3 linked regions of the Homo sapiens genome follow. The protein of the gene in region 3 purifies or fractionates together with the protein of the main gene of each other region. This does not show direct contact. Each region holds a gene or a part of one and is shown on either strand. Other genes may lie near its edges.

Region 1 (7,964 bases), on a different chromosome or scaffold from region 3:
TCCAACAGGCTCCAAACTCAATACTATAAAAAGTCCAAATTCAATTCCAATAGAATAAGGCAAATGTATCTACAGATTGATGATGTTAAGCAGGTTTCTTTTCTTTCTTCCTGCTAAAATCCCAGGTAAAACAACAGGGATTTTTTTTGTTTTTTTAAGAGACAATTTCACTTTTTCACCCAGGTTGTGGTACAGAGGCATGATCATAGCTCACTGCAGCCTCTAACTCCAAAACAGGAATTCTGCACTTTGCCTATCTTACAAGAGCAAATGAATTTATACAAAGACAGTTTAGGGCCAGGTGCAGTGGTTCATGCCTGTAATCTCAGCACTCTGGGAGGCCAAGGCAGGAGGATTGTTTGAGGCCAGCAGTTCCAGGCAAGCATGGACAATATAGCGAGACCCCGTCTCTATTGAAAAAGTTTAAAATTTAGGCTGGGCGCGGTGGCTCATGCCTATAATCTCAGGACTTTGGGAGGCCAAGGAGGGCGAATCACGAGGTCAGGAGAAGGAGACCATCCTGGCTAACACAGTGAAATCTCATCTCTACTAAAAGTACAAAAAAATTAGCCAGGCATGGTGGCACGCACCTGTAGTCCCAGCTACTCGGGAGGCTGAGGCAGGAGAACTGCTTGAACCCGGGAGGCGGGGGTTGCAGTGAGCTGAGATCATGCCACTGCACTCCAGCCTGGGCGACACAGCAAGACTGTCTCAAAAAAAAAAATTTTTTTTTTAATTAGCCAGGTGTAGCAGCACACCTATACTCCTAGCTACTTAGGAGGCTGAGGTGGGAGGATTGCTTGAGCCCAGGAATTCAAGACTGCAGTCAGCTATAATCATGCCACTGCACTCTAGCTTGGGTGACAGTAAGACTCTGTCTCTACAAAAAATAAAAGGGCAGGATGCAGTGGCTCACACCTGTAATCCCAGCACTTTGGGAGGCCGAGGTGGGCGGATCACCTGAGGCTGGGAGTTTGAAACCAACCTGACCAACATGGAGAACAAGCCTGGGCAACGACAGCAAAACTCCATCTCAAAAAATAATAATAATAAAATAAAGAGACACTTTATGAAACAAAAAGTTATAAAAACTCACAGTCTATCACTCATGTGTAAAAAAGATGTACTTAATTTAAAATAAAATAAATAAGTTACAAGAATATGGAAGGAGTGACACCTTAGAACCAAGTAAGACAGATGACTGTGGCTCCTATTTGAACTTTCTGACCCTCTACAACTTTTCATACTACTGAAAACAATTAGACATGTGTTGTAGCCTCCTTAGAAGCCTGTTCTGGCAGAGCCCCAGAACAATGTTGGAAGTACATATTACGCTGAATTCTGCCTCCCGGAAATTTCAGGCCTGGTCTCTGTTCTCAAATCATAGATTAAGAATAATCTCCTAGCCAACAAAAAACAAGCTAGTCTCCTTCCAAAATTTTATTCGTTTTCATCCCTTGGTTCCACCAAATAAGACTGAGTTTCCCATCCTGGTGGTCTCTTTTGGAATATAACAGAGTTTGGTCATGTACCTCTGGATTTGAGCATGCCAAATTGAACGCAATTGACTGATGCAATGTAAACCAGGACCACGACCTTCTTGCACCTGAGTACAAATCTGCCGCGGCTTCCTACAATTCTAAAATATTGCTATTGTAAGAACTCCATATCAAAAGACAGAGAAACCAACAAGGAAAGTTAATTCTAAGTAGCGTACAACCTAAGTTCAAGGACAATCTTTGTTCCCACTGACTTGATCTCAGAACAGAGACTCAGTCACAAGTTAAATCACTAGGAAGCAACAGCAAAGCACCGGTCAGCTATCAAGGTTAAAACTACTGCACACTGCTGGCCTATATAAAAAATATGGTGTACACTCAGCACCGCAACACATGCCTTTACATTTCCATGGGAAATCCAGTCAACTCATGTGGGTCAAACAGTTGTAAAACAGATTTTCGTAATAACTGAATTACGTCATCTTCTCAGGGCGGCTTACCGGAAAACAAACTCTACTTCCCTTACGAGAGTTTAAAAAGTCACTAAAGACGCGGCCCACGTGCGCAGATGAAGTTAAGACCTCTCCAGTCTACTCTAAAGCTCCAGTGCCCACATTTTTTTTTTTTTTGAGATGGAGTTTCGCTCTGTTGCCCAGGCTGACGTGCAGTGGCGCGATCTCGGCTCACCACAACCTCCGCCTCCCGGGTTCAAGCAATTCTCCTGCCTCAGCCTCCCGAGTAGCTGGGACTACAGGCGCGCGCCACCATGCCCGGCTAATTTTTGTATTTTTTAGTCGAGACGGGATTTCACTATGTTGGCCAGGCTGGTCTCGAACTCCTGACCTCATGATCCGCCCGCCTCGGCCTCCCAAAGTGTTGGGATTACAGGCGTGAGCCACCGCACCCGGCCTCCAGTACCCACTTTGACTTGACGTGTAACTTCCTTCGCGCACGCTCATGCCGGGAGTTCTGTCTTAGCCAACAACGTGGAGCCTGACTGAAGGTCCAACTCTGCGCACTGTGTGAGGCGCGCCCAAGTCGCCGGGGACCACGTGGGACACCCGGCCCTCTCCCGAGCTCCAACAGGGCCTCTCTACCAGAGTTCCGACCTGTGGATGCCTATAAGCTCAGAGGAAGAGGTCAGCGCACGGCGGACCTGGCTCGGTCGGGCAAACGACGCGTCCACTGCCCGGGGAGCGCACCACTCCTGGGCGACCGCCCGCCAAGACCCACGCCCGGTGTCTGGACGCGCTGTTATCCGCCGCGCGCTCCCACGATCCCAGCCCGGGCACTTCTCCCGCACCCCGGGGTTCCGCTCCATTCAGCGTCCCTCCTGGCCCCAGGTCCCTCCGTTTCACCTCCTCGGTTTGCTTTCGCAGTGTCTCCCCTTTTTTCATTGCGGTGTCTGATTCCAAACCAGCGTCACTACGGAGTTTTCCCGGCATCTTCAGCGCAGGTTGCCCAGGCCGACCGGTCTTCTCAACCGCGTGGAGAGGAAGAGGTAGTTCCCCACCCTGGGTCCACCCGGCTCTCGTCACTTCCCGTAGCAAGGCACTTCCGGGGGAAGCAGGAAGCACAGGAAAAGCTGCTTTCCGCGTGGTAAATTCAAAGCAGCGGCCTGTGACTGTGGTTGGATTTAGTGAATTGACCACTTGCGGCCCTTGGTCTAGAAGGCACCTACGGAACGGTAGAACCGCAAGGAATTGCAAAGGTTAGCTTTGTATTCTTCAACACTGGCCAGATTTTCCCTAGCCCCAGCCTGATAAATGAAGGCTTCTAGTTGCTTTTGAGTGGCGCCATCTTCAGTGCTTTATGTTGTATTGCTCGAGTTTGCACGTACAGACGCGCGGATGTGTGTCCTTAATCATCTCTTGGAAACGTCTACTCTGAAAGTGTCGACCAGACTCAGGAGCCTGAAGAAAAAAAATAATTCAGTCGGGTCTGGTCGTTCATTCATGCGAGCACTCAAACATCTTATGAGCGTTCACTGTGTCAGGTAGGAGAAACAGGACTAGTATTCACTAACAAGCACAAAAGCCTTATCGTCAAGAAGCTTTATAGACTAGCGGGAGAGAGAGGTCTTGTGGGTTTGAGACAGAGTCTCGCTCTGTCATCCAGACTGGAGAGTGCCATGGCGTGACCTGGGCTCACTGCAACCTCTGCCTCCCGAGCTCAAGCGAATCTCCTGCCTCAGCCTCCAAAGAAGCCAGGACTTAAAGACTAGCCCTGGCGACACAGCAAAACCCCTATGTCTATATATCTATATATACACACACATATATAATATATAAATAAAATATTTCATATATATAAAAGAAAAAATAAATTTCAAAAATGGGATAGAATAATATCTGACATTGAAAATCGGCCTTTTTGTTTTTTTGAGACGGAGTCTCGCTCTGTTGCCCAAGCTGGATGAAGTGGCGCTATCTCAGCTCATTGCAACCTCTGCCTCCAGCGATTCTCATCCTTCAGCCTCCCGAGTAGCTGGGATTACAGGCCTGCACCACGACACCCAGCTAATTTTTGTATTTTTAGTAGAGATGGGGCTTCACCATCTTCACCAGGCTGGTCTCGAACTCCTGACTTCAGGTTATCCACCCATCCGCCTCAGCGTTCCAAAGTGCTGGGACTATAGGCATGAGCCACAGCGCCCAGTCTTTATCTATTTCATTTTTTTGAGACAGGTTCTCCCTCTGTTGCCCAGGCTGGAGTGGAGTGTAATGGCGTGATCATGGCTCATTGCAGCCTCGACCTCCCAGAGTCAAACGATCCTCCCACCTCAGTCTCCCGAGTAGCTGGGACTACAGGCATGTGCCACCCTGCCTGGCTAATTTTTTAATTTTTTTTTTTTTTGTAGAGACGGAGTTTTGCCATGTTGCCCAGGCTGGTTTTGAACTCCTGAGCTCAAGTGATCTTCCCACCTCCGCCTCCCAAAGTACTGGGATTACAGGCAGGAGCCACCATACCCAGTCTGCTCTGTTATTTTTGGAAACATTACCTTATCTGAACCCAAGTTTCCCTTGTATGAAATGAGGATAACAAAACCTACTTCATCAATTGAGAAAATTAAATAAGATAATGGCAGAAAATGGTCTGGCAGTGCCTGACACACAGAGCACAATCAATGAAAACTATTAAAACTTAGTGTGTCACAAGGATTTGAAAACACAATTTAAAATATTACATTTTATGATAAAGGAAAATGCTGGAAAAGTATTTCTGTATTTCTGATTACTGCACTTTTTTTTTTTTTGGAGACAGTCTCACTCTGTGGCCCAGGCTGGAGTGCAGTGGCGTGATCTCAGCTCACTGCAAGCTCTGCCTCCCGGGTTCACGCCATTCTCCTGCCTCAGCCTCCCAAGTAGCTGGGACTACAGGCGCCCACCACCACACCCGGCTAATTTTTTGTATTTTTAGTAGAGACGGGGTTTCACCGTGTTAGCCAGGATGGTCTCGATCTCCTGACCTCACGATCCTCCCGCCTCGGCCTCCCAAAGTGCTGGGATTATAGGCTCGAGCCACTGTGCCTGGTCTACTGCACATTTTTTAATCTGAGAGTTTCAAGGAAAAATTTTGTTTCACCTAAACTATTATTTGATGTTTCGTGGTCTCAATTTTTTTTTTTTTTTTTTTGAGACAGAGTCTCACTCTGTTGCCCAGGCTGGAGTGCAGTGGCGCGATCTCAGCTCACTGCAACCTCCGCCTCCCAGGTTCAAGCAATTCTCCTGCCTCAGCCTCCTCAGTAGCTGGGATTACAGGCGCCTGCCCCCACACCCGGCTAATTTTTCTATTTTTAGTAGAGACAAGGTTTCACCATCTTAGCCAGGCTGGTCTCGAACTCCTGACCTCAGGTGGTCCACCTGCCTTGGCCTCCCAAAGGGCTGGGATTACAGGTGTGAGCCACCACGCCCAGCCATGGTCTCAAATTTTTTTAACAATTTGTGAAAATGTGCAACAGTGCTTTAACTTATATTCTGATATCCCTGAGCCAGGAGCCTTGATTTATTCATCTTTGTGTCCTCAAAATTTCAGACAGTGCCTGGTACATAGTAATCTGTAATTAAGTGTTTAATGAATGTTAACATGGCAGTGGTGGAGGGGAACCCCTTGAAATAAATTTTAGCTATATGCCCAGGTACGAAAGTACCTGAGTCATCCTGGTGTTAGATGTGGAAGAAAGGAGAGCAAGCATGAATGCAGTCAACTAATTGGCCAACAAAATGCTTAACATCTCTGGTTTCACCATTGTATCATGTAGTTTAGATACTAAGTGGAGGCCCAGTCCCCACCTCAAAGAACCTGCAGTCTGGTTGACAAACCACAACACTACATGATCCTGCTATATACATGATACTACTGCATACAGTACAGGGACATGTTTATTATCAAGAGATATTCAACAAGAGAGTAAGCCCCAGAATGGTACTAAATGGAAAACTTTTCAAAGCTTCTAAAATAAGTTCCTTTGTAACCTGCATATAGGGACAAACCCAAATTTCCACCAGGAAACATGCAAAAGGCCCATTTGACAAAAGGTAGCCAATTAATTATCTTGTCATCAGTATAAAATTCAATAACAAGACGAAGAATAGCTTACATAAATTTGATAGGAGCTGGATATGGTGGTGCACACCTGTAGTCCCAGCTACTTGGGAGGCTGAAGCACAAGAATTGCTTGAACCTGGGAGGCGGAGGTTGCAGTGAGCCAAGATTGCACCACTGCACTCCAGCCTGGGTGACAGAGCAAGACCCTATCTCCAAAAAAAAAAAAAAAAAAAGAGGAAAAATTTGATAGGAAATGTTGAATATCCTTGAATGCTTAAATATCAATATTTTGCCAGGCCTATTTCCTCTGATCTGGATGATGTAATGTTTTCACAAAATTAGAGGGAGAATTTGTATTTTTAAAAGCATGTATACACACACACACAACGAATTCAAAAGTCTACAAAATAAAATGTTAGCAGTCATTCTTTCTGAGTAATGTGACTGTGGGTGGTTTTTATAGTCTTCCATTTGCTTCTCTACTTTTTTAGATTCCCAACAATGGACATGTATCTTTTTTTTTTTTGAGGCGAAGTCTCACTCTGTCGTCCAGGCTGGAGTACAGTGGCGCGATCTTGGCTCACTGTAACCTCCACCTGCTGAGTTCAAGCAATTCTCCTGCCTCAGCCTCCCAAGTTGCTGAGATTACAGGCGCCTGCCACCATGCCCAGCTAATTTTTGTCTTTTTAGTAGAGATGGGGTTTCACCATGTTGCCCAGGCTGGTCTCAAACTCCCGACCTTCAGTGATCCACCTGTCTCAGCCTCCCAAGTGTTGGGATTACAGGCGTGAGTCACTGCGCCCTGCCTGACATGTATACTTATAAGGAAAAAAAAAAGGAATATGGTTTTTAAAAACTACTGTTAAGCACTATCCCCAAAATACAGGAAACAAAAACAATGTGAGAGAAGACTCTCAAGATATTTAAACCTAAAAGTGAATTCATAATTCTAAAGCTGGAGAGAATAAAGCAGATGTTATTTCATTTATAAATTCAAAAACTGAAGATCAGAGTAACTGATTCTAGTTCAAATAGCTGTTAAATGACTAGAGCACAGAGTACCAAACAGGAGGCCAAAAGCCAAAAAAAGGGAGCCATGAAGGTACTGGCTTCTAAAAGGAAGAAGAGTAAAGATACCAGTGGCCGAGTGCAGCCCAAAGCTGAGAATTTGATGAGAAATTTGCCTGGCCCCATCCTACTTTCAAAACATGTGGAAAGCTATTATTTAATTTTGTTAGGACCCTTGCTAATAGGGCATCTGACCTTTAGCAGGTAGACTCTCTTAAACCCATCCACCCTGTTGGCATTTACCTATATACTTATCTTTTTCACTCTTCCCTGAAACCCTCCAACAGCTATCCAAAACAAGACCTACAAAGCCCTCCAAGATATAACACATCTTGCCTTGTTCTCACCATTGCCTTCCTCACAGTCACGATCCCAGCAACAAGAGCTACTCATAGTTCCCCATACTTAAGACCATGTTGTTTCATCAGCTTTTCTGTGCCTTTGCTTGGATGCAAGGTTTCCTGTTTCTTTTACCTACTTAACGCTCAGCCATCACGTCTAAAAAGCCTTCCCTGAACCCCCACTCCCATTCCAGGGCCAGGTGCCCTTGCTCAGTGTTCACAAATCATTGTAGTTAGTCATTCCCATGGACATAGGTTTATTTGTCCACTTATTTCACTAGATTCTGAGCTCCAGAGTAGAGACTAGGCACTGCTTATTAACCCAAAACATATTGCCTGGGACACTGTAGTCACACAACATATTCTGACTGAACATAGTAGTACTCATGCAACTTAATATGAATGGAGCCCCTGTTTCATCTTGGTTATACTACAACTCAGTTGCTCAAATGCAAAGCAGACTGAGATTTTCCCCCCAGTTGTGTCTGTCTGTAACACTAGCCCCCCA
Region 2 (7,036 bases), on a different chromosome or scaffold from region 3:
TATATCACCCTTTCCATTTTCTTTAGGGGATCGGGACCGAGACCTGCTTCGAGATTTCTCATACTCATCCTTAGATCTGCTTCGAGAATGTGAATGGGAGCCCCGATCAGACTTGGGCTTAGATTTGCTCTTTGATCTAGATTTCCTGCCTTTTGATCGAGAACGTGATCGACCTTTGCTCCGCGACCTGGAACTGGACAAGGAAAGACCGATTTTCTCAATACTTAGTGAGAATGTACACATACTCCATAAACAAGTACGGTAATATTCACAGTGACTCAACACAACGTTATTTACCGGGAGCGACTTTTTGAGATACTTCGAGATCTACTGCGGCTGCTCCTGCGACTCCTACTTCGTGACCGTCTTCTAGATCGAGACCTATTAGGAGAAAAACAATGAAGTCTTAATCCCAATCCAACTTAAATACATCCGTGCCATCTGGCAAAAATAGATAAGCCAAAGAATAATGTTTTTCTTTACTACGAAATTAAATACACTGTTCAAAACATCCAGAAAAGAACGCAATGATGCACAGCCAAAACAAACTAAAAGCTGGCTTTAATTCAAGTAGGCAACAATTGACATCACTCAATTACTCCCTTTTTATTGGCAAATATTGTTTCCTTCCCACAGTGTCCTTCAACAAGTTACCTGGATCTGCTTCCAGAGTAAGATCGCCTATGGCTTGTGCGTGGCTTATCTTCAATAAGCCTAATATTTCTGCCATTTATTTCTGTGCCATCCAGTTTGTCCAAAGCACGCTTCATGTCAGAGTAGGAGCGAAACTCAATTACACCCTCATTTGTTCGTTCCTTGTGGGCATCCGCATAGGTTACTTCACCTGCTTGTCGCATAAAATCCTGAAAGACAAGATTGGTCAGACTCGGAAATCTTAAAACATCTATATACCATAATAAATTCCCAGAAATAAGAATATAAAAGGAGTTTACTTTAAAGCATTAGTCATATCATTTCTATCTTGAATTACAAAACATACCTTTAAATCTTGCCAACTGCACCGACTAGAAAGATTTTCTACAATAAGCCTGTATTCTGTACGAACAGGTGGTCCGTATTTGTCTCTGCCAGATGTTCTCCGACTGCTGTATCCACCTCCACCACCTTTATCACATGAAGGGAACAATTAGATGCCTTGTAATGATAAAAACGCATAATGTCTTTGAAAGTTAGTACAAACATATCAACTTTTATTTACTGGAGTAGGACTTTGCTATTATATTGCTAAACCTTCGACACATTTGTGATTTGCCATAAAATTAAATTAAGGGCAAGTCAAATAGACTAAATCCAACTAAACCTCTCCTACAATCTGTTAGAGAGTGACTGCTCCTTTATTCGATTTACCTCGCTAAGTTTTATTTTACAGAACATTGTAAAATATAAAACTTAACTGATTACATGCATTTCTACATTTTACAAAAATGTTTACTAGTTTTACACTAAGTACTTACATCACAGTGTGAGGTTTTTGGTGGTGGTTTGGCCACAAAACACGCAAGGTAACAGTCACCTAGTTCAGATTAACCAGTTTTGTCTAACCCTTGGAATCCTCACCATCACCCTGCGTCTAATGGCAAAAGGCTGCTGTCGTCATGGCTTCCGGTAAGGTCAGCCAAAGGGTCATAGGGCAAGGGTCACACAATGTATGGAAAAGCCAAGGCCAATCAGGAAAGGCAGTCATCTTAGCCTCAGTGGACACAGCCTCAGCCCCATTGGTCACTTTCAAATTGAAACATCAAGGACTTGTTAAAAAGTTTGAATTCAACATGCAACAATTTAAACATCAAACATTTAACATAACCAAAAATCCCCCCAACCTCCTCCCAATAACATGCCCCAATTAGTTCAAATACAGCATAAAGCTTATTTAGATCTACTTTGTGGTACAATACCACATTACTTAAAAATAGTACATTCTTTGGCCCCCATCAAGTTCCATAGCTTTAAGACCTATACTTTATGCTCCTCCCCTTCCCCGTCCCCCGCGCCCCCTACCCCACCTCCACCCGAGCCTGCCCCCGAACCTCTAACTAATGCACTGATAGGTAAGTAAGGAGAATACAACAAATACAGCCACCCCTTACTTCCTCTGTGGGAAGAACCCGTGACAGTGCTGACAAGGGGCCAGAAGAAGCCACCCACCTCCCAACTTGGCAAATAAACAAAACCAAACACCCAAACCCAATCCCCGCGCTCCGGCGTCCCATGGCTGCCCCGGGCAGACGTGAAGGCAGCGGGGCTCGGGGACACCCAAGTCAAACGACCCCCGGCCCTCGCGCCTGCCCGGGCTGGGAGGCCCCACCCCACCCACCCCCGCCCCCAGGGTCCCCAAGGGCGCGGAGCGCGCGGGGGTGGGACTCACTGCGGCTTCCGTAGCTGTAGCCGTCGCGATCGCGACGCGGGCCCCGGGCGTGCTCTACGATCACGCGCTCGCCGCAGAGCTCCTTGCCGTTCAGCTCGTAAACGGCGTCGTCGGCGTCGCGGGAGTCCTCGAACTCCACGAAGCCGTACCTAGGGGCGGTGCGAGGGCCGGACAACCGCGGGGGAGTCGTTAGCCAGGACGCGCACGTGCGCGCGCCCGTACCCCACCGCGCGCCCCCGCGACGCCGCGCCGTCGCCATCTTTGAGGCCCTGCCACGCGGCGCCGCGGCCTTGGCCGCTTCTTTCCTTGGAGAGTTCCCGCCGCCACCAGGCCTGGGACGCTGGGCGCGGGCGCCCAGGCCCGACTCACCCATTTTTGAGGTCTACTTCGAGGAGGCGGCCATAGCCACTGAAAAAGCGCTGGATGTCCTTCTCCCGGACGTTGTAGCTCAGGCGTCCTATGTAGACGCGCGGCATGTCCGTGGCGGGCGGGGACCCAAGGGCTGGTTGTCGAACGGCGGACCGCAAGCCAGTAACCGCGGTGCGGGTGCGGGGACGGCAAGAGCCCGAACACGCGCCTCACACCACAGGGGCGGCCGAGTCCAGCCACACAATGGCGCGCGCGCGCGCCAGGCTTTCGCTATATGGGCGGCCGGTGGGGCGGGGCCTGGAGCGTGATGTCAGCGCGCAGCGGCACGTCCGTCCCGCGTCGTCCCTGGGCTAGATGGTGACTGGCGAGTCCGTTGCCCGCGACGTTTCGGTGTAGTGCGGTCTTGCTAGCTTCTAGGATTTTTCTCTAGCCCTCCCCACCGTCTTTGAAAACACAATGTCTCTAATCCAGCCGCAGAACTGCTTTCTAATTTGTACCTTTTATAAAACTGTGCGCGATCTCTTCGGGGTTGAAGCTCGGGAGGCGGGCTGAGCGAATCCCCGTTTTTCATTGGTTCTCGAGGTTATCATAATAGGTCGCCGCGGTCTCTGCTTGGTGGCTTAAAACGAGGCTGCGGATTTCTCCCAGCGATTGGTTGATGCTCGTTTTGATGGGGACCGCGGTCTCGGACCCAGTCGCTTGTCTTGTTTCGCAGAATCTGAGGATCGCGCGCCGAGGTCTTGCTGACCGGGCGGAGGTCGCGTTGCGAGCGCGCAGACCCGCCGACATCAGCCTCTCCGGGTCTCACTCGCAGCCTTCGCCTCCCCGGACGTTCCCCTCTCCCTCCATGGGTCTTTCTTGGAGCCCTGGCAGCTTGACTCACTTGTGGATTGGGCTATCCGTGGCAATCCTACGCTCACTGTAGGTGCTCAAAAGGGAGCGTGGACGAGACCCGGCAGCCCTCCCACAGCGACGAACGATTTTTTTTCTCCCGTGTATGGAAAGTCCTTTGTCCCAATACTATCATTTCCTCCACTGACTTGAAAGTGCCTTATTTTGTGAGTTTATCAATGGAGATGCTATTTAAAGCTGTAGAACCAGATTGAAAACCTCAAAGGAGTAAGTTTAAGTGGAGAGCGGAAGACCCAGGCCAACGCCTGGGGTACTCTGAAATTTAAGCGCAGGAAAGGAGACTGGGAGGAGTGACTAGCGAGGTAGGGAGAAGACCAGGAGAGTAGGTGTCACCGCCGAAGCTAAAAAAAAAAAAAAAAAAAAAAAGGGATATCACTGAGATAACACCAGCTCTTTAGATATTTATGTATTCCTGCTCTGTTTTGAGTGGTGCAACCTCAATATCCTTAAGCTTCGGGTTGAAAAAGGGGGGTTTTGTCCTCCTGGAGCTATTTGGAAGTCTAGAGGGAAACGTTGTTTGTCACGACTGGGGGAGGTAGAGGCCGTGCTTAAAGTTAGATAAATAAAAAATACGAGTCTGTAATCCCCACACCTTGGGAAGCTGAGGCAAGAGGATCTCTTGAGCCCAGGTGTTCGAGGCTGCAGTGAGCTATGATCATGCCACTGCACTCCAGCCTGGGTGACAAAGCAAGACTCCAACCTGCCTGAAGGAAAGAACAAAGCTTCCGCAGCGTGGAAGGGGACCCGAGCGGGTTGCCACTGCTGGCTGGACCGCCAGTTTTTAGTCCCTTATTTGGCCCTGCCTACATCCTGCTGATTGGTCCATTTTACAGAATGTTGATTGGTCCGTTTTTACAGAGTGCTGATTGGTGTGTTTACAAACCTTTAGCTAGACAGAGAGCACTGATTGGTGTGTTTTCAATCCTTTAGCTAGACGGGAAAGTTCTCCAAGTCCCCACCCAACCCAGAAGCCCAGCCGGCTTCACCTCTTCACCTCGGTAGGCAGAATAAGGGTTCCCCCTAAAGATGTCTATGTCCTAATCCTAATCCTAATCCCTGAAACCTGTGAAGATGTTACCTTGTATGTCAAAAGGGACTTTGCAGATCTGATTAAGTTGAGCATCTTGAGATGCAGAGATGCCCCGGGATTGTCCAGGTGGGCCCCATGTGATCATAAGGGTGATTACAAGAGGGGGACAGGAGAGCCACAGTCAGAGAAGCAGATGTGACAAAGGAGGCTGGGATTGGGGTCAGAGTGATTGGCTGTAAGAAAGTCACAACCGAAGTTAATGGCTTTGAAGATGGAGGAAGGAACCATAAGCCAAAGGGTGCCAGTAGCCTCTGGAAGCTGGAAGACACGAGGGAACAGATTCGCCCCAGAGCCTCCTGAAAGAACGCAGCCCAGGCCAGGCTCTGTGGCTCACACCTGTGCCATCTCGGCTCACTGCAACCTCCGCCTCCTGGGTTCAAGTGATTCTCCTGCCTCAGCCTCCCGAGTAGCTGGGATTACAGGCATGCACCACCACGCCCAGCTAATTTTGTATTTTTAGTAGAGACGGGGTTTCACCATGTTAGGCTGGTCTCGTTTCGAACTCCCAACCTGAGGTGATCCACCCGTCTCTGCCTCCCAAAGTGCTGGGATTATAGGCGTGAGCCATTGTGCCAAGCCCAACACCAGCTCTTTGGATATTTTTGTATTCCTGCTCTGTTTTGAGTGGTGCAACCTCAATATCCTTCCGCTTCGGGTTGAAAAGGGGGGGCGGGGTTTGCCCTCCTGGAGCTATTTGGCAGTCTGGAGGGAAACGTTGTTTGTCACGACTGGGGGAGATAGAGACCGTGCTTAAAGTCAGATAAAAAATATGATTCTGTAATCCCTGCACCTTGGGAAGCTGAGGCAGGAAGATCTCTTGAGCCCAGGAGTTCGAGGCTGCAGTAAGCTATGATCATGCCACTGCACTGCAGCCTGGATGACAAAGCAAGACACTGACTCAATGAAATAAAGAAAAGCAAGGAGCAAGGCGTAGTAGCTCACGCCTGTAATCCCAGCACTTTGGGAGGCCCAGGTGAGAGGATTGCTTGAGCCCAGGAGTTCGATATCAACCTGGGCAACATGGCAAGATCCCATCTCTACAAAAAACTTTTTTTTTAAAAAATTAGCTGGGCATGGTGGCACATGCCTATAGTCACAGCTATTGGGAAGGCTCTCAACAGGGGGCAGTGGTTCTCAACAGGGGGTAGTTCTGTCCCCCCTGCGGACATCTGTCAATATCTGAAGACTTTCTGGTTGTCACAGCTGGAGGAGGGAAGGAGCTGCTCGTATCTCATGGGTAGAGGCCAGGGATGCCACGAAACATCCTGCAAGGCACAGGACAGCCCCACCACGAAGGATTATCTGGTCCCCAATGTCAATAGCTGAGGTTGAGAAGTGCTATTCCAAATGAATCCTGTACAGAAGTTTTTTTCTTTTCTTTTTTAAATAGAGGCAGGGTCTCCCTATGTTACCCAGGCTGATCTTGATCTCCTGGGCTCAAGGAGTTCAAGCCTCATCCTCCCAAAGTGCTGGGATTACAGGCATGAGCCACCATGCCCAGCCTATGGAAGTTTTTAAAACGAAGTTTGGACTAGCTTGGCAACATGCAATCCAATCTCCCAGTTGGAAGAGCCTCAGAGGATCTTTCAGTCATCTGATTCATGATTCTTTCTAACTCTGTCACTGACAGTTTCCAATTCTGGATTCTGTTCCTGGAGCAACTACTGCTATATTCACTCCACTCCATACAAATACACCTGAGTTGCTACGAGAGGGGATTTGCCGGGCACCGTGGCTCACACCTGTAATCCCATCACCTTGAGAGGCAGAGATGGGATCACTTGATCCCAGGAGCACAAGACCAGCCTGAACAACATAGCAAGACTCCATCTCTTAAAAAAAAAAAAGGCCAGTACTGGCGGCGTATACTTGTAGTCCCAGCTACTCCAGGGACTGAGGTGGGAGGATCACTTGAGCCCTGGAGGTCAAGGCTGCAGTGAGGTATGATGGCTCCACTTCACTCCAGCCTGGGTGACAGAGCAAGACTCTTGTCTAAAAAAGAAAGGAGAGAAAGGAAAGAAAGAAATAAGAAAAGATATGAGCTCCCATGCTGCACATCTACCATTTCTCCTTTGAGTTGTTCTCCCAACACATCAGCAGAGTTGGGTCCTCAGGAAGACTCCACAGAATGGTGACAATCCAGCACCTCTCTCAATTATGATATTTGAAACTGTTTTCTCTTCCGCAGCAGTGCTCTTGGGTTTTTTGTTAGGGGTAGCCACTGGGCTTTGGGAAAGAGAAGTGAGAGGAAGAGTGGATGATATCAGCTGCATCTTTCT
Region 3 (7,751 bases):
GACTCTGAGCTATCTGCATATCCCAACAGTTCACCACAATCAACTATCTTCTTTCCTACTTACATTCCTGGAAGTGGATCCAGCCTGCATCAGGAAGCACTGCCTCAAGTTCCTGCTCTGACCCACATTTCTGTGTGGACCTCCTACTGCTGACTTGCACCACTTGTGTTTAACACTGTGACATTTCACGAGAGAAAACTGGTTTCTGCAAACCCTGAGCCGGAAGCCCTGGGAGGCAGAATGTGTGGATCAACCGCCCCTCAAAGTCCCCTTCCTGACTGTGATCCCTCAGGGTGGGTCCCAGACCACTCAGACCTTATGCTACCCTGGCCGTGGAACCTGTCCACTGTGGACAGGCTCAGAGGGCCACAGTGGGGCTCCAGGCCCGGCATGGGAAGCACTGTCAGCTCAAGCCCATCTGTGCCCTTGTGGTGAAATGTGCTGTGCCACTCTGGGGAGGGTGCGTACCTGGACGGCAGGGCCTGGAGGGTGGGTGGCAGTGCTGCTCTTGGCTCTTCTGAAGAACAGGGGCTTTGGTAAGAAGGGGGTGTCAAACTTCACAAAGTCGCTCTCTGCCCTCAGCTTCTGCTTCTTCAGGGAACTGCAAGTCCCACTGCTTCCCTACGTGAGCGAGGGGTGAGAAGCGGAGGAGGGGTCAGACGACAGAGCCTCCTGTGCTGCCCACACACACAGGAGGGGAAGGCAGAGCCCCAGGCAGATCCAGCCCACCCGACGGCCCGCGGTCTTCCGCACCGCACTTGCAGACAGCCCTTCCATTCGGCAGAGCTCAGGCTTCACGCACAACACGACCGCTATCATGGCACCATGCCAAGAGGGGCGATGAAAACGCCTCGTCAGAGTAAGGACCCACTTTTATCTTCATCTTCAAAATGGGGATTTTGGCCTTTCAAAGCCGATCTGTTAATAAGATCGACTCTCCCATTTGTAGCTGAATCGTCACTGCGCTGGCAGTCTGGTGTGGAGGACAGTGATGCCCATGTGGGGCTGTGGGTCCCTCACAGGCAGGCCCAGGACACTCATTGCGTGTGCAGCAACTGACAGCCACCCAGAGAGAGACCGGGTCTCGTACTTGGCTCTCAGAGGTGTGGGCAGCCCAGTGCCGCTGCCGACACACGGGTGGCTCCGGCAGGTTCAAGTGTGCCGCCTGGAGGGCAGGGAAGCCCGAGGAGCTTCTCCTGTGCGCCTTCCCTGTGCCATGACAGATGGCAGGGGAAAGCTTCCCTTGACCCTGGGACTTATTGAGCAACACCCCATCCTCTTTACAATAGGCTGCCAGGGGCCTGAGACGACAGCAAGAAAGGCAATGTCTCTGGCCCTCTTAGTGAGGGAGCAGCGCTGAGGGTACGAGGGGCAGGCTGCAGTCCAGGGAGGAGATGGCGGCACTGTGAGGTAGGAGAGACTCGAGGCTAGAAATGGGCCTCCTGCCGTCCAGCTCAGTGCACTGCTGCCCCTGGGTAAGGCTTTCCTGACCATAAACTCACTCACTAGCCACTTGCAGACACTCTTAGCCCCAAACCAGCGCTTCACCAGGTCCACACATGTCCACTTAAACAAGAGATGTCATAATCTCCGCAAAGCGGTGTGTGCAAACCAAGAGGTGACCAAGGTGCGCAAACTCTGTGAAGGGCAGAGTTATTTTCTGCTTTACAGACCGCAGGTCTCTGTCTCTACCACTCCCCTCTGCCGCTGCAGCATGAAAGTGGCCACAGACCTGCACATACAAGTGGATGTGGCTCTGTTGCAGTGACACTACGTTTGCCGGCCCTGGCCTGGAAGCCCAGGGCGCCCAGAGGTGGTGTGAAAAGCGGATCAGGGCCAGGCGCGGGGGCTCTCGCCTGTAATCCCGCACTTTGGGAGGCCGAGGCAGGTGGACTGCTTGAGCCCAGCCTGGGCAACAAGGCAAAACTCTGTCTCTACAAAAATAACAAAAATTAGCTGGGCATGGTGATGTGTATCTGTAATTCCAGCTACTTGGGAGGCAGAGGCAGAAGAATCGCTTGAACCTGGGAGGTGGAGGTTGCAGTGAGCCGAGATTGTGCCACCGCACTCCAGCCTGGGTGACACAGCCAGACCCAAGACCAGATCAACAGCTTGGTTCCTCATTTATATCTGGCTCTAGAAATCAAAGTGGAAGGAAAGTCTTTCCATTAAGAAGATAAGTGGTCCTGCTAGTGAAGTTTCTTGAGCTGGGGGGTAGGGGGGAAGCTAAGAAAAGAAAAGAATATAGAAAAGAAGGTGAGTGAAGCAAGAGAATTTTGGGCTTCCTCTTTTGCCAAAGGGGCCTGGACTGGCCATGCGCTGATGAAGAAAACCAGACCTGCCTTTGACAGAGGCCTAGACTGGCCTGAACACGCCTGGGGCAGGAGTGCCTGGCCCAAGGGATAACTTTCCCAGCTTGGAGTGGGCCCTCCCGAACCCAAGCATGTGGCCTAAGGGAGTGAAGGTGGCCGATGAGGAGGACCGAAGTACTGGTCACCTGTGATTTCCTCCTTAGTGAAGGCTGTTATGAACACACCCTATTCTAACTGCTGCTGAGTCCAGAGGCCTGGCCGCCAGCCCCCACCCTTCCTCTCAGGAGGCAGTGGAGCCCCATGGACGCGAGTGAGTGCCTCTGTGGCGAGCTGGCCTGTGGGTGCTCCCACCTTACCAGAGCCTGGGGTTGCCCAGCTTCGGACTCCAGCACCCCGTTGTGCTCCACCAAGTTTGACATCACTCTCATTTTCTTCCTCTTTTTCAAACTTGCTGTTTTCTGGCTGGGCAGGCCACAGAGCTCCAGGCTGCCGGGCCCTGCCTTCTTTTTCTGCAGCCTCCTGCGCTGGGGCAGCGTGGTGTGGCTGTTCGCCCCCTCTGCGGGGCCTGTGGGAGGGCCTTCCTGCTGCAATGGAGGCCAGGCCGGCGTGGACAGGCCACTGCCATTGACGGGCACAACTCCAAGTTTCCGCTTCCTTTTTAGGAGTTGGGCTCCACCTGTCGGGGACCCTCTAGGTCCCTGAGGATGACTGCCACTCGGGCCACTCTGAGACATGTCCTCTGGGGGCAACACTGCTGATTCCAACATTTCCCTGTGGGCCCTCGGGCTCTTCTTCCGTGGCCGTTTCCTTTTATTGTGCATGGGGACGGCTGGAGGATGCTCGGAGCCACTCTCCTCCCCAGTGCTGGACGTGGCCTCTGCACCTGGCTCGGCCACACGTGCCTTCAGGGCTTTCAGCCCAGAGGCCTCGGGCTCCCTGCCCCGGTTCTGTTCCAGGGATGGGGCTGCACCCCCTGGGCCTGGATTTTCAGGCTGCAGGTGGTGCTTCTTCTTCTTCTTCCTTCTTCTCTTTTGAAGACTGCTTTCACTGTCCTCTTCCTCTACACAAAAGACTCTGCTTCCTAAAAAGACAGAAACCCATCAACAAGCACCCAGTGCCAGCTGGGCCAGAGTCCTGCTGGCGATTCTCAGACAGTATGACTGGCGGACGCAATTTCCTGACATTCTACCACGAGGAAAGTTCCTGTCTCCCTTGAGGTACTTGGTGCGCCCACTACCTTTGTCGTCTGGTCCCACTTCCTCCATCCCCAACTGTGACTGGAAGCCTTCCTTCTGTCCGTTTATAAACACATATGGAACTGAAATAGTCCCATTTCCACTAATTTTAGGGCTCAAGGGTAAAAACCATAGATCTCGAGTGGTCATCAAACAGCCGCCCCCCAGTGCTCCCTGCAGCTCCTGCTTCCCTGCAGAGGTGCCCTGGAGAGCAGGCGGACGTGAGCGGGGTGAGGTGGGGACGCGGCTCCACCAAAAACAGCACAACACTTGGAAAACCGCCTTTACCTCTCAGCCATTAAAGACTGAAGCTTTGGGCTCTGCTAATGCTTTATGACGGCACGAGCTCAAGTCTCCGAGGCCTCCATGGTGCATGCCGCTCCCCAAGGGCTGAGTCGTGCCCTTCTTTTTAGCTTTACAGCTTACCTTTCTCCTTTTCCAAGTTAGTTTTCTCTAAAAGTTTATTTCCTTTCTTCTTATGCTTTCCTTGACTGAGGATTTGGTCATCTTCATCAGCAGAAATGTCCTCCGCAAAACTGAGTTGAGATATACTGCTTCCTAGATGCCAGAGTGACACACTGTTAGCTTCCCCAGGCGCTCAAGACTCTGCCCCAGGGGCCTAAGAGCAGCACCCCTCCCAATTTCTGCCTCATCATCATCGTTCCTCACCGTTTCTCCCACCCAAACCTGAGCGCTGCTGACACAGGAATTACAGACTTAAAAAAGCTTTGTGGATTTCTCAACCAAGGCAAGGCAAGGGATCACAAGCCCTCGGTGACACCCTCCATGGCTGGACCCCGGACGCTTGGCTAATGCAGTCTCTGCATTCCAACCAGCTTGCTGGTGCCTTTCCCAATTCCAAGTGTCCCTAGTGAATGACGGGTATGGGGTAACTTCACTGACTTGTCCAAATGTAACAAAGCTTACAGCATCAGCCTTTCCCGGGGGGACCATTGACCATAAGAGCAAATGAAAGGGATCCTGAGAAATTACATTTTTTACCTTCATAGAGTATCCAATTAAAACCTTCCTAGGCCATTGAAAATCCATCTAGTTAAAATAATAAAAACCAAACCAAAACATCGCAGTACCCACACATGAGAGCAGTCTGCCCTCTTGCTTTGGTGGTTAGGGAGAGCCCAGGATAGGAAGGTGGGCAGGCTGCAGGGAGCCCTAGGCTTGCATCACTTCCCACGCTGTACTGCGGTATGACTAGGTAAGGGCTGGTCTGTCTTTCTTAAAAGTTGGGGTCTTGTTGTGTCACCCAGGCTGGAGTGCAGTGGTGTGATTACAACTTACTGCATCCTGGACCTCCTGGGCTCAAGCGATCCTCCCCTCTTAGACTCCCAAGTGACTGGGACTACAGGATCACGCCACCACGCCTGGCTAATTTTTTCATTTTTAGTAGAGATGTGGCCTTGCTATTTTGCCTGGGCTAGGGACTATTATTTCTTATCAGAGGTTTTCAGTAAAGTTCTTTCAATCTTGTTTCTCAGCGTTTGGCATCAACGCCCCCAGTGGGGTCCATATTCACGAAAAACACCATGAATGATGATTCTTGGCGCGCCTCACCTTCAGAAAGGTCTTGGAATCTAAAAATAAAAAAATAAAAAATAAAAAATAAAAAAATAACAAATGTTCATAAAGAAATCCCTTCTGTCTTCTGTAGACATATGTATTTGATTTTTAAAATACAAGCCATAGTTAAATAGTTGTTAATTCACGTTCTCCTCCAGGAGGGGAGGCTAGACAGGAAATTCTGTGAGGGAAGGGTGGTGCAATACAAAAGCCAAAAAGCTCAAGGCCAGTGCCGCCCTCGGTTACCATCAATACCAGCAAGGACACGGCGGGCCAAAGATGCATCTTGGCACACCCAAATCAAACTAAGAAATTCAATTTTTGTTTCTGAAGGCAGAAATAGCTTAGATCTCTCTCATATTCAATTCTCCAGTGGAGAAAGGCGAAGCCATGTTTTGCTTCACACAATTTTTGTGCATTAGAACAAACAAGACGCATCGAAGCGCAGTGTGGGGAGGTGCATGGGGGAGGAGACACTGGATGGCAGGGACCTCAGGCAAGCTAGGACCATCCTGTGCCCTAAGAACCAGCTGGGAAATGGGCAAAACTACAGGAGCTACTTTCTGGGGGCTTAACATGGAATACTTGAATGTATACAAAGTGCTCAGAGCAGTGCCCGGCTCCTAGAGTGTGATCAGACAGTTGTTGTCACCAATGACAGCAAGCCACACGAGGCCCTCCATGAATTCCAGGTCATCATGTCACTATGGTCAGAGTGACATCAACACTGACAGCTGAATTAACTAACACTTTTGGCATAGCCATATGGGAGGGAGGGGAGAGGTAAAGAATTAACCCTATCTATCTCAGCAGCACACCAGCAGAAGACACCTAAATAGCAGATTCACATCAGTTTCTGGTTGGTTCATTTTAGACATGAATAGACTTCACATCATTCTAAAGCAGCTAAGAGATGAGTATGGCTGCACTGGAAGAATGGAACCTGAGGGGTGGGACTGCTGTTTCCATTAAGCTTTTCAGTTTACATGTGTCTATTACATTGCTATACACAAAAGCATTAAAGGACAAAAAAAGAAGAAAGAAAAAAGATAAGCATGCAGATGGCTTGTCCCACACCAGGAGATGAGAACTAAAGGAATGATGATGTCAGAACCCTCTCCCCAGTTACTGACTTCTTGATGAGTTTGGAGAGGCGCTTCCTGTTGAAGTGGGGCGTGTTCTTCCTGCTGGTCATTTCCAGGAGTCGATCAGCAACAGCCTTATAGTCAAACTAGGCAGGAAGAGAAACTAAACATAAGTCTGCAGCCAAACAACACTGCCTGACTTGGCCATTTACATCTGCTAGTAAGAGAAACCCTTACTGAAGCATTTGGCAACAGATAGGCTAAACAAGCTTGTGCTGGGACTTGGCAACCAGGAGCACAAGCACTACCTTTGAAAAATGCATGTTCAGGCCGGGCGCGGTGGCTCATGCCTGTAATCCCAGCACTTTGGGAGGCTGAGGCGGGTGGATCACAAGGTCAGGACATCGAGACCATCCTGGCTAACACGGCAAAACCCCGTCTCTACTAAAAATACAAAATATTAGCCGGGCGTGATGGCGGGCGCCTGTAGTCCCAGCTACTCGGGAGGCTGAGGCAGGAGAATGGCGTGAACTCAGGAGGCAGAGCTTGCAGTGAGCCGAGATCGAGCCACCGCACTCCAGCCTGGGAGACAGAGTGCGACTCTGTCTCAAAAAAAAAAAAAATTATTCTTGGGAAAAGCTGGGTAAGCAATTCTTAAAAAAAAAAAATTGTGATAGAGTACCCACAACAAAATTTACCTGGGTGTGCTTTTTTTTTTTTTTTTTTGAGCCAGAGTCTGTCACCCAGGCTGGAGTGCAGTGGCATGATCTCAGTTCACTGCAACCTCCACCTCCCGGGTTCAAATGATTTTCCTGCCTCAGCCTCCCGAGTAGCTGGGATTACAGGCGTGCGCCACGGTGTCGGGCTAATTTTTGTATTTTTAGTAGAGACGGGTTTCACTGTGTTGGCCAGGCTGGTCTCGAACTCTTGACCTCAGGTGATCTGCCCGCCTGGGCCTCCCAAAGTGCTGGGATTACAGGCGTGAGCTTGTAATTAAATTTTAAATTTAATCTAGATTTGCAATCTGTACTTGGCAAACTTTTTTTTATTTGAAAAGTGCCACTAGAGCTGGCTCTGTGGTAGAGAACAGAGGAGAGCTTAGCCATTCAAAATAAGTGCTACTATCTCTTTCAAAACTCCATCATATTTACATTTCCTTGTCTCCAATAAGGTTATTCTTCAGAAGGTGACATTTAGTGACTGAAGGGATTAAAAAGGAGTTTACGCTTCAGGCCTTATAGCTTAACTAGCTGTGACCCTAATTCTCTAGTCAGGCTACTCCACAGCAAATCTATATTCTATAAAAAGCAACAACTGCTACCCACCTGGAGAAGGGGCCCTGTGTCCTCAAAGGTTCCACAGTCATCTCTTCCTCTTTCATCACTGAGTCCATCTTTTCTGGAATGGTTTTTGCCCAGTGCTGTCAAAATATACCCAAAGACCAAATTATTGACATATCAAATACACAGAAGTGACTACTTCCACAGGAGCCACTGTCTAATTAGGTGTCTCTTAGCAAAAAAGAAGGTTGGGCACGGTGG

Evidence for each region. The genes of interacting proteins can lie anywhere in the genome.
Region 1: the proteins of RRP1B (region 3) and DDX21 purify together in Homo sapiens (affinity purification with mass spectrometry; 3 studies listed by BioGRID and IntAct, with this or other methods). This does not show direct contact.
Region 2: the proteins of RRP1B (region 3) and SRSF6 purify together in Homo sapiens (affinity purification with mass spectrometry; 3 studies listed by BioGRID and IntAct, with this or other methods). This does not show direct contact.

What each region holds. Positions count from the first base shown.
Region 1 is NC_000010.11:68,951,206-68,959,169, reverse strand, and holds the start of DDX21 (nucleolar RNA helicase 2), read right to left. Parts: upstream 3,001-7,964; 5' UTR 2,945-3,000; coding exon 2,858-2,944; intron 2,524-2,857; exon of another isoform or gene 2,422-2,523; intron 1-2,421.
Region 2 is NC_000020.11:43,453,860-43,460,895, reverse strand, and holds the start of SRSF6 (serine/arginine-rich splicing factor 6), read right to left. Parts: upstream 3,001-7,036; 5' UTR 2,863-3,000; coding exon 2,756-2,862; intron 2,536-2,755; coding exon 2,387-2,535; intron 1,744-2,386; coding exon of another isoform or gene 1,592-1,743; exon of another isoform or gene 1,359-1,591; intron 1,126-1,358; coding exon 1,001-1,125; intron 864-1,000; coding exon 655-863; intron 382-654; coding exon 298-381; intron 194-297; coding exon 1-193. UniProt on the Homo sapiens protein: Plays a role in constitutive splicing and modulates the selection of alternative splice sites. Plays a role in the alternative splicing of MAPT/Tau exon 10. Binds to alternative exons of TNC pre-mRNA and promotes the expression of alternatively spliced TNC.
Region 3 is NC_000021.9:43,683,158-43,690,908, reverse strand, and holds part of RRP1B (ribosomal RNA processing protein 1 homolog B), read right to left. Parts: intron 7,631-7,751; coding exon 7,536-7,630; intron 6,357-7,535; coding exon 6,259-6,356; intron 5,140-6,258; coding exon 5,120-5,139; intron 4,106-5,119; coding exon 3,974-4,105; intron 3,394-3,973; coding exon 2,669-3,393; intron 622-2,668; coding exon 469-621; intron 1-468. UniProt on the Homo sapiens protein: Positively regulates DNA damage-induced apoptosis by acting as a transcriptional coactivator of proapoptotic target genes of the transcriptional activator E2F1.